Regions from separate parts of the Homo sapiens genome. Here region 2 is linked to region 1. A link means that fine-mapping ties the variant in region 1 to the expression of a gene that starts in the linked region. Tissue or cell type: whole blood. Region 1 holds a variant in brackets; the other region holds the start of a gene. Each region is shown on its reference strand, or each on the opposite one. Region 1 overlaps ZNF131 (zinc finger protein 131). Region 2 holds the start of TMEM237 (transmembrane protein 237).

Region 1 (5,379 bases):
CACCTGAGGTCAGGAGTTCAAGACCAGCCTGGCCAACATGGCGAAACCCCGTCTGTACAAAAATTAGCTGGGCATAATGGCGGATGCCTGTAATCCCAGCTACTCGGGAGGCTGAGGGGGGAGAATCGCTTGAACCTGGGAGGCAGAGGCTGCAGTGAGCCGAGATCGTGCCATTGCACTCCAGCCTGGGAGACAGAGGGAGAAAAAAAAAAAAGGCTGGGCACGGTGGCTCACGCCTATAATCTTGGCACTTTGGGCGGCCAAGGCGGGTGGATCAAAAAAGAAAGAAATTCACGTATATTAGTGTGTGTATAAGTAGTTCATTCCTTTTTCCTGCTGAGTATTCCATTGTATGGATGTATCACCATTTGTTGATTCACCTGTTGATGGACATTTAGGTTGTTTCAAGTTTTTGGCTATTAGAAATAAAGTGGTTATGAACGTTTGTGTAACAAGTTTTTGGACATACGCTTTCATTTTTCTTGGTAGATACCTCTTAGTAGAATAGCTGGCTTGTATGGTAAGTATATGTTTAATATTCTAAGATACTGTCAGTCTCTTTTTCAAAAATGGTTGTGCCATTTTACATTCCATTCTGCAGCCTATGAATGCTCCAGTTTTTCACAGCCTTGTGAATACTTGATATGGTCAGGCTTTTTTTTATTTTAGCTGGGCTGGTGGGTATATGGTGATTTAAATTTGCATTTCTCTAATGACTAATGGTGTTGGATATTTTTTAATCGGCTTTTTTGCCATCTGTTTGTATTCTTTGGCAAGGTGCCTGATCAAATCTTTTGCCTGTTTTTTAAAATGGGATTATTGTCAAGAAGGGGGCAGCATTGTGGGGGTCTGAGATTTTATCCTGTTTGCAAGGTAGTAACTTTTTAGCTAACAGTTTCATGGATGCCGGCAAGAGACATGAGACTCTTGAGTCCAGAAAAGGGCTTGATTACTTAGAGCAAAGAAAGCAGCATGAGTTCCATGTTTGTATCAGTGTTTCTTGTTCCCTGTCCCCCTAGTCCCACAGGGGTGACACAGTGGCCTAGGTGTGTACCGTGCTCACAGTTGTTTGCATCACAGTTGAGGAATTCTGAGCTTTAGGAAACCCAAATCTTCTATAATGAGCTGCAAGCAAACCTGCCTAACCTTTGCTGTAGAGGAAACATTATTATACTGGACAATAAATAAACCTACTCTCCACTCTGGAAGAGGACAGGCTCTGTTTTCCAAAGTCCTTTGCTGTACAGACAACTTTGAAAAGATAGTCCAAAATAAAAGGCTCTCAATGTCTTTGTTTATAAGACATGCAGAAACATTATGAGTATCCATGGAGAGTTGTCTTGTTCCATATCCTTGTTTCTGTATTATCCTGGCTGGTACTGAATTTTCCCCATAAGTACAGCACTTCTTTAGCCGCTCTGATTAATCTGACCGTAGGGACCAGGACCTGGCTGGGTGCGGTGGCTCATGCCTGTAATCCCAGCACTTTGGGAGGCCGAGGCGGGCGGATCATCTGAGGTCAGGAGTTCGAGACCAGCCTGGCTAACGTGGTGGAACCCCATTTCTACTAAAAATACAAAAAAATTAGCTGGGCACGGTGACACATGCCTGTAATCCCAGCTACTCAGGAGGCTGAGGCAGGAGAATTGCTGAGGCTGCAGTGAACTGAGATCGCGCCATTGCACTCTGGCTTGGGCAACAAGAGTGAAACTCTGTCCCAAAAACAAACAAAAAACACAGGGACCAGGACCTAATCCATTCAGTTTTTCTCCTACTGGATTTATTTAAGGATTTATTGAAGTCAACAGAACTTCAAGCAGCAGGATTTGGGCACCCTGCCGTGTTGACCTTAATCATGCACCCACCACACTAAGGTTCATTCTGGACTCAGCCAACTGAACAAATCCCTAGAAAAACAGGTGACTTTCTTTTTCGGTTTCTGTATTGACTTTTCCACTTAGCCCTGGGCATTAGTCTAAGTATAGCAAGATGCTTTACAATTATACAGGCTCCACATTGTCCCATAGGGAGGATGTCTACTAGGGCAAGTTTTTCATTCATAATAAACCTGGCCCCAGTGGCTTGAAGCTGACATAAATGCCTTCCAGAGCCCAAGTGATATCAGTGAACATATCAGCTTAAGTCATGCACAATGTTGTACCACTTTTTTAATTGGATTACTCCTATTAGGGAAAACTGCCCACGGGATGTGCATAAATAAGTCAGTTATTATTCTAGGAAGCATCCCTTTGAGAATTTCTAACCAAGAGTATCCTTAAATGAGACCTCCACAGTCACCCGAGGGCTGCTTGATCTTCCTTAAACACTTGATGGTCTCTTATAACCACCTCTTAGGTGTAAGTCGTCATTTTGTTTCGTTTTGTTTTGTTTTTTTGAGACGGAGTCTCACTCTGTGCCCAGGCTGGAGTGCAGTGACGCAATCTCAGTTCGCTGCAACCTCTGCCTTCTGGGCTCAAGCAATACTCCTGCCTCAGCCTCCCTAGTAGCTGGGATTACAGGCACCTGCCACCTCACCCTGCTAATTTTTGTATTTTTGGCAGAAATGAGGTTTCTCCATGTTGGCCAGACGGGTCTCCAACTCCCGACCTCAAGTAACACACCTGCCTCGGAGTCCCAAAGTGCTGGGATTACAGGGACGAGCCACCGCGCCTTGCCAGTCATCGTATTTTTGTGAGGCAAGGAAATTAGTACCTGGCTTCCACACAAGAAGCACAGTCCCAGGGGCACATAGGAACCCTGAAAGGAAAGTACTATTTGCAATTGTTCGTGCCTCCAAAGTAGGCACGAACCTGCATCAGTGTAGAGGCACAGATTGATATAGCCTCCAATGTAGTCTCCTTTCCCAGTTCAATTAGAATGATTCAGTCTAGTTCTAGTTTTTGGAGAGACTGAGGACAGGACAGTCAGTTGACTTCTTTCCTATTTATTTATTTATTTATTTATTGAGATGGAGTCCCGCTCTGTCGCCCAGGCTGGAGTGCAGTGACATGATCTTGGCTCACTGCCTCTACCTCCCAGGTTCAAGTGATTCTCC[T/C]GCCTCAGATTCCCCGGTAGCTGGGACTACAGGCACGTGCCACTAGGTTGAGCTAACTTTTGTGTTTTTAGTGGAGACGGAGTTTCACCACGTTGGCCAGGCTGGTCTCGAACTCCCGACCTCAAGTGATCCGCCTGCTTCAGCATCCCAAAGTGCTGGGATTACAGGTGTGAGCCACCACTCCCAGCCGAGTCTGTCCTATTTATCACAAGCTCCTGAATGCCAGCTGACTTGAGTAGTAACTGTCCACCTCATGGACTGATCTCAGCTATGAGAATGGTAGTGGAGCATGGTGTTTTGCCTGCGACACACAGGAGTCATCCCCAGCTGTTTTTAGAAGATATGTTGGTAAAGTTAAGGGAAACCACTTGGCAGGGAATGGCAAACACAGCAGTCAGTTTAAAAATGCTTATAGCCATTGGAGAGACCTGCAACTGAGCATTTTTCTTAATTTGAAAGGTTCTAGGGGCAGTTCTGAAAGACAAAGGTGGTTTGTTTTGTTTTGTTTTTGGAGACAGGGTCTCACTGTGTCACCCAGGCTGGAGTGCAGTGGTGCAATCACAGCTCACTGCAGCTGTAACTTTCCAGGCTCAGATGATCCTCCCACCTCAGCCTCCCAAAGGAGCTGAGACTGTAGACATGTGCCACCATGCCCAGCTAATCTTTTATAATTTTTTGTGGAGATGGGGTCTTACTATGTTCTCCAGGCTGTTCTTAAACTCCCGGACTCAAGCGATCCTCCCGCCTCAGCCTCCCAAAGTGCTGGTATTATAGGTGTGAGCCACCACACCCAGCTTGACAAAGATTATTGTCCCTCCCTGCCCTATATCTTCTGGAGTCGTAAGATGTTTCTCTCCCTAGATGGCAAGATTGTCATTCCTCCTTCACCTCTTTTCCAGTCATCCCCTCCTCTTATGCAGACCTTTCATCTGGTAAGGTCAGGTACAAGAAGGGCAAGGACATTTAAAACTTAGAGACCCATTATGTTTCCCACTTTGGCTCACATGGGCTATTATAAGTGAGTGTACTTGGCAAGCAGTGAATTCAATCAAGTGGTCAGTATTCCTATAAGATGATGTCACTCCATTAAGAGAATCCAGATGGCTGAACTAGAATGAAGTTCGAATTTCCTAACCCTGGCTTTGGCCAGGCTGTCACCTTTAAGAGGTACCAGGCTATTCCAGGATTATTGTTGGGGGAAAAGAAAATGTTTAAGAATGTTCAGGGCGGGCCAGGCGCGGTGGTTAACGCCTGTAATCCCAGCACTTTGGGAGGCTGAGGTGGGCAGATCACCTAAGGTCAGGAGTTGGAGACCAGCCCTGACCAACATGGTGAACTCCCATCTCTACTAAAAAAAAAAAAAAAAAAAAAAAAAAGCAAAATTAGCTGGGCCTGGTGGCACATGCCTGTGATCTCAGCTACTTAGGCTGAGGCAGGAGAATCACTTGAACCTGGGAGGTGGAGTTTGCAGTAAGCGAGATCGTGCCATTGCATTCTAACCTGGGCAACAAGAGCGAAACTCCATCTCAAAAACAAACAAACAAACAAAAATTCAGGGCACAGAATCCTGCTTTTTCAGATTGGGTTTATATTACTTCCCTCCCCTTCTGTCTTCATCATTATCCACGAAGTAGCCAAGAAGACATGATCCCTTTCTAGGGACAGCTAAATTCAGTGATCAAACTGCTTTACTCAGATTTTTGGACAAAGAGGAGGTGAGGGAAGTAGAGTCAGAAATCATTTTGAGTCATTGTTTGAGAAAGCTGTCGCCATACTCAACAAGCTACTCAGTATCTATGGATGGTAGCATGAAACATCCATCAGTACCTTGACTGTTATTGATTAGCTTTTGTGGTCATTTTTGTGTATGTGATAAAGCTGAACCATTATCAGACTGCAGATGGTATAGAAAGGTGAACATAAGACATAGATTAGTTTCAAGAGCCACAGTAGTGTGTCCAGAACCAGCTGATGAAACTGGAACAGCAACAGTGTAACCTAAAGAAGTGTCAGCATGGTGGGGCGGGGTGGCTCACACCTGTAATCCCAGCATTTTGGGAGGCTGAGGTGGGCAGATTGTCTGAGGTCAGGAGTTTGAGACCAGTCTGACCAACGTGGTGAAATCCTGTCTCTACTAAAAATACAAAAACGTTAGCCAGGCGTGGTGGCGTGCACCTGTAATCTCAGCTACTTGGGAGGCTGAGGCAGGGGAATTACTTGAACCAGGGAGGTGGAGGTTGCTGTGAGCTGAGATTGCGCCACTGCACTCCAGCCTGGGCTCCAGAGCGAGACTCCGTCTCCAAAAAAAAAAAAAGAAGTGTCAG
Region 2 (5,379 bases), not on the chromosome of region 1:
GGATTATAGGAGTGAGCCACTACGCCCGGCCAAAGCAATTCTTTCAAAAGTCTGTTGTTCAGACATGACAGAAAAATATAATGGATCAGACTAGGATCTTCAAATCTCTTGATAATCTTGTTCATCAGTGAAACCTGGGAGGTACTGATGAGAAACATGGGCAATTTAAAATTTGTTCTCCCATCCTAAATTTCATATAAAATTCCTTCCTTCCTACATTCCTTTCCATCTCTAGGCCAGGCCCTTTTCTAAGCATTAGGAATACACTAATGAACACAATGGAGAGAACTCTGCTCTTATGAAACTTACATTCTAGTGGTTGAGTATTAGAAACAATGTTAAAAATATATATATGATAATATATACTATATATTATATGCAGCATGTACGATAAAATATATTTATATGCTATATTTAAGACATATCTTGTATACATATCGTGTGTGCATATATATATATATACACAAGATACACACACACAAAACGTAATGAATGAAGGAGACTGAGTGCTACTTTTGTTAGGGAAAGTTTCTCTGAGTTTGAGCTGAGACCTGAATGAGAAAGCAGCAACCGGAACAAATGCAAATATTTTTAGGTTAAATTGGGCTTGGAATGTTTCAGGTAAAAGGACAGCAAGGCTGCCGCACAATTACCAAGGAGAGGTAGGCAGGAGCCAGATTAGTTAGGGCCTTGCAGACCAAGGGAAGTTTGGATTTTGTTTTAATTCAATGGGAAACAAATGGAGGTTTTAAACCACATACTAACACAATTTTTAAAAAGGCCAGTTGCATACACTGGGAAGAATGCGTTTTAGGGCAGAAAGAAAGGTGGGGGGAACCCTTCTAAACCCTCATTTACATGAATAAGAAAAGTGTTTGTAGTTCAGACAGCATTACAGTTGAGAAGTATTTTAGAATCATATAGTAACAGAAATGCCTAGAAGCCAATTTAATGTTCCAAGTATCTCATGCTGCTTGCATAAGACATTTATTCAAAAGGGTTAAATTTTAGACACTCTTGTAGTTTGTCCCATTTAGCAATCCATTCGTTCGAACAGTAGATTAATGCAAGTACTACAAGATTAGGACGAGGCAAGCTGCCGTAATACCATCCAGTAGTCAAAATTACAATTGGAGAAGAATGACAGTCACAGGAACGCGCTATTGTTCTAAAGATGCTACGAAGCGCGCGCGATCGATCCCAGGGCTCTGTTCACGTAACTGATTTCAAAAGTCCCGCAAAAATGACGTTCCACCCACCCAGAGACCCAACCTCTAATCCTCAAAAGTAGGACGGCTCAACTGAAGACAAAAATCCTAACAATTAAAAGTAGCTAAGGCTCGCTTACCACAGGATTCTTCCCCATTCTGCGTTTAGCCGGCCTCGGCGGCCGCCGGCCCCCAAGCACCTGGCGCCCCACCCCTCCCGGCTCGGTCGCGCGCGCAGGCGCAATGCGTCATCGGGCCGCGCCGCCTGGCTAGTACCCCGCGCGCAGCGCCCTGCGGGGATGTTGCGGTGAGAGGCGTGCAGGGACCTGGATTGGCCAGTCCAGACTAGCCCTGCCAAAAAGGGGGCCTCGGAGTTGGGGGTAATGTGCCCAGGAGCAGAAATCTGGCGACCGTGGCGCTGCAATCACAGCTTTCCCGTGGTTTCCTAAGTGGTGGCGGTGATTTGTTTGCGGGAAGCGGGGCGTGACGGAAGACCTTAATTAAAGGACTCCGCAGGCGAACAGATCTCTTCTGGGCAGCTACAGACCTCTCCTCGGAGGAGTCTAGGAGAGGCCTGGCTGGAAGCCCCGGCACCCGCCGGGCCCCGGGCCTCAGATGAGTGAGGCGTCGTCGTGGCAACGCGGGCTCAGGTCCCCGCAAACTTCATGCCAGGCCTCTCTCTCCCACTCCGGGAGTTCGGTCCCGGCCTCGCCTGCGTCTCCGTCCCATTCCTGTGAACACTGGAGGGGCGGATGCGCGCACCCCACGAGCAAGGCCCTCCCTTAGTGATTCCCAGCTCGTTGGCGCCCCCCCACACACACCCACCCCCACTGCCAAGTGTAGCTGTTTACCCGCCACCTCTCGAGGCCGACGCGCCCCTCGCCGCTCACCAGGTGGCCCTCCTCCAGCCGAGCCCCCGAGTCAGTCCTCATGGTGCTCTCCCCGCGGGGCTGCCCCGGCGCAACCGCCGGCGGCCCGAGCCCAGCTCCCCGCGACGCAGCGGCCTCCGGGACCTGTGGGACGCCGGGGCTTCGTGGCGCCTGGCGAGGCAGCCGCCCCCTGAGCCAGGTCCCCGCCCGCCTCTGTCCTGCCAGGCGCTGCTGGGTTTGGGAGGAATGCGTTTACTCTCCAGGACCAACGAGTCTGTGCAGGCCTGGGTGTGTGGATGTGTATTAATATAGGCAATTCTCACATTTTCTCCGATTGCTTACCCTTCATCCCACAACTGTGTAAATCAAATTTGGAAAAACTTTTTCTCAACCTTAAAATCAAATCCAACCTCACATAAATATCACTACAAACTACCTGATTTGCATCGTTTGGTTTGGTTGGGTTTGTTTTTTTTTAAAGATAACTTTCACTTTAAGTAACAGAGAACTACAAATATTTTGAATCATGCATTCTGTTTTACAGTTAAGAAAGAAATGGGAAAGATGGAAGAATGGTGTGGATATGGAGAAGAGAATGATGCAGAAGATGAACAGATACAGGGACAGGGAAAGCGCCTGGAAATCTCAAATCTGGGGAAAGAAAGAGAAACAGCACTTTGTAATGGCATCCTAATCTTGTTACCAAACAAACGGGGCTTGTTGCCCTATACGCACAGAAGCCAATATTATGGCGCTGATTTTTTGAGAAAAGTTTTCATTGTGAGTCAGCTAACAAGGAGACAGGAGTATAGCTCTAATCTGTCTCCCTGTGTTGGCTTTAAGACAGTATTTTTATTAGAAAACGTTTAGGGGGTGGATTCTGGGATTAGTAGGTGATTGGTGGAAGGAAAGAAGCCATCTGGAAAATCCTCTGGCGTTCGCAGTTACCTCTTCATGTCCCTTCATGGGTCGCATGTGCAAATTTTGGAGGGAGTCAGTGTGAAACATGGGGAAAGATTCAAGCTGTGACGCCAGCAAGCTCATTTTGTACAGACTCCAGGTAGCCATCCGTGTTAGTACTAACCACTTTCAGCCAGTTTGCTTTGTTTTGTTTTGTTTTGTTTTTTAATCTCACAATGGAAGAAGTTTAGGCGTTTTATTTAGCAAGTTGTTTTTTATCTGCCGTCCTGCATGCTCAAGAATTTCTGTTAGTCCCTGGTTTCTTTAACTCTGAGACACGGTTTCACTCTTGTGATTTTCTATATATAGGTCTCTGGGATTAATCCATTGCCTTTTTCTAATTTAGGCCTGCATGTAGATATTGGCTGTTAAGGAAAATTAGTGTTTGTCACACCTCTCATGAGAATAATTTTTTCCTTGTAGGCCGATTTGTAAATAGTGAAGGCAGTGCAGTTTCTTGTAGGTTTTGATTTTAGATGTGAAATGTGTACATTAAACCTTTCTTGCTGAGTTAGTCAAGTAAGCACTTTTTGTAAAAGATGTTTTCATAAAACACGTTTCATAGAGTACAGTTTCTAAAGTTAACTATTGCTTATTTTATTTAGGAAAGCTCTTTATTTAAATCTTAAAAAGATCATGTGAAATCTGCGAAAGGTTCTCATACTCAGTGACTTAACATTATTCATATTTCTACCACAGCTGCATATGAGGTAAAGGAAAAAAAATTAAGTTAAAATAGGTAACCACATAACCATACAATAAAAATTTTTTTCAAATAAGATTAATTAATAAATTGCTGCACTTTTAAAGTTGTACACATTAAAATGGGTCAAATACTGTTGTTTTAGATTGCAACTATGGATCGCTGTATCAAGGGTACAGTGTTAAAACTCCAGCATTAAACAAGAAGTCTCATTGAGACTCAGTATCTGAGGAAATCCATGTTGCTGGTACCCACTGAGGCTCCTCCTGAGCCTTCTGTATGGCAGACAACAACTGGGCACATGCATCGTGCAAGCTGTCATTCACAATCACATGATCAAAAAATTGGCCAAACTGAGTTTCCATTCTTTGGGCTAAATTTTCCATCTCTTGTAGGTCTTCATCCTTTAGGAGAAATAGAAAAATATGGATAGTACAGACTTAATTGGACAAATGGAAAAAATACAGTTTGTTATGCTGTCACATTCAGTTGTGAAACTATGTATAAAAACAGTAAGGTCCGAAAATTTTGCACAGATGATTTTCAATAAAGTTTCAAAAATATTTTTTCAAAATTCTACAAAACCAGCAAACTAGAAAATAGTAATTTTTTTGCCCTCTGTTATTGAAATAATGTGGCTAAGTATAGATAAAATAATTTTTTTTTTTTTTAGACAGGGTCCCACTCTGTCCCAGGCTGGCATGCAGTAGGATCATCTCAGCTCACTGCAGCCTCTGCCTCCCAGGCTCAAGTGATCCTCCCACCTAGGCCTCCCAAGTAGCTGGGACTATAGGCACATGCCATCATGCCCAGCTAATTTTTGTAGAGAAAATATAATTATTATAACAGGTATAAACATATCCTTCTAAATTAATGTGAAGCATAAGCAAAGCTGGGAAAAGTATATCACTATCCACAGTATGTCATCCTTTATTTCTTAGAAATGTATTACTGAGATAAAGAAATTTTAATTTGGAAGTTTTTTTAAATAATAAAAGACTGAAGTTTTTATTTTAAAAAATGAGGTCCAATAAATGTCTTCTAAACTACAAAACTTATGTTTTAATCTTTAGTCTTAATGTCTCGTCATGTTTTGCAAAATTTAGTCATAGTTTGCAGACAGATTACTCCCCTCAACTTCCCGTGTGAACTTATCTTACTCTTACCTAAACACTTGAAACTTTTTAACCATATACAACATAAAACCAAAGAAAATGTACCAGTTTAAATAAAATTTAAACATAAATTTCAAGTGAACATTAATCTGATAGGGATAACATTAAAGATACAAAATGGCCACTTTCAACATGAGGATGGTATAAGCCAGTTATATTATGTTTCTACTATTGTGAAATGTTCATTTAATGAAGGTAATTTGGCATTCACTTGGCACTAATGCATTAAATTCATTGCTGTTATTTTCTTATTAGTTCATGAAAATAGTACAACTTGTCACCAATACAATCTGAAACACAAATGCAGGCACCAAAATCTTGTGGCTTTACAAAGTGACCATACATATGATCCAGAAACAATTTTGTTAATTTGTTTAGACTGCCATAAAAATGAGAACAATTTTAAATGCCCATAAGACTCAGCAAATACATTCATGGACTCCACTGTTCACAAGGCAAACTGG

What was found. PIP is the estimated chance that this variant, and not a neighbour inherited with it, causes the effect.
Region 2: TMEM237 starts here. The variant in region 1 is the best candidate, but not a certain one, in a credible set for the expression of TMEM237 in whole blood (TOPMed, PIP 0.61).

The regions. Positions count from the first base shown.
Region 1 is chr5:43,149,059-43,154,437 of GRCh38, forward strand. All of the region lies in intron 4 of ZNF131 (zinc finger protein 131), which reads left to right. Among named protein-coding and RNA genes, the nearest start is that of ZNF131, 31 kb to the left of the region's middle. The variant T/C (reference allele first, on the strand shown) is at 3,056.
Region 2 is chr2:201,641,261-201,646,639 of GRCh38, forward strand. TMEM237 (transmembrane protein 237) reads right to left here and starts at 2,243. Exons shown (of 13, transcript NM_001044385.3): 1 at 2,099-2,243. The coding sequence starts at 2,140. It overlaps MPP4 (MAGUK p55 scaffold protein 4), which reads right to left. Exons shown (of 22, transcript NM_033066.3): 22 at 3,614-4,144. The coding sequence ends at 3,950. RefSeq lists silencers at 1,342-1,531, 2,102-2,361.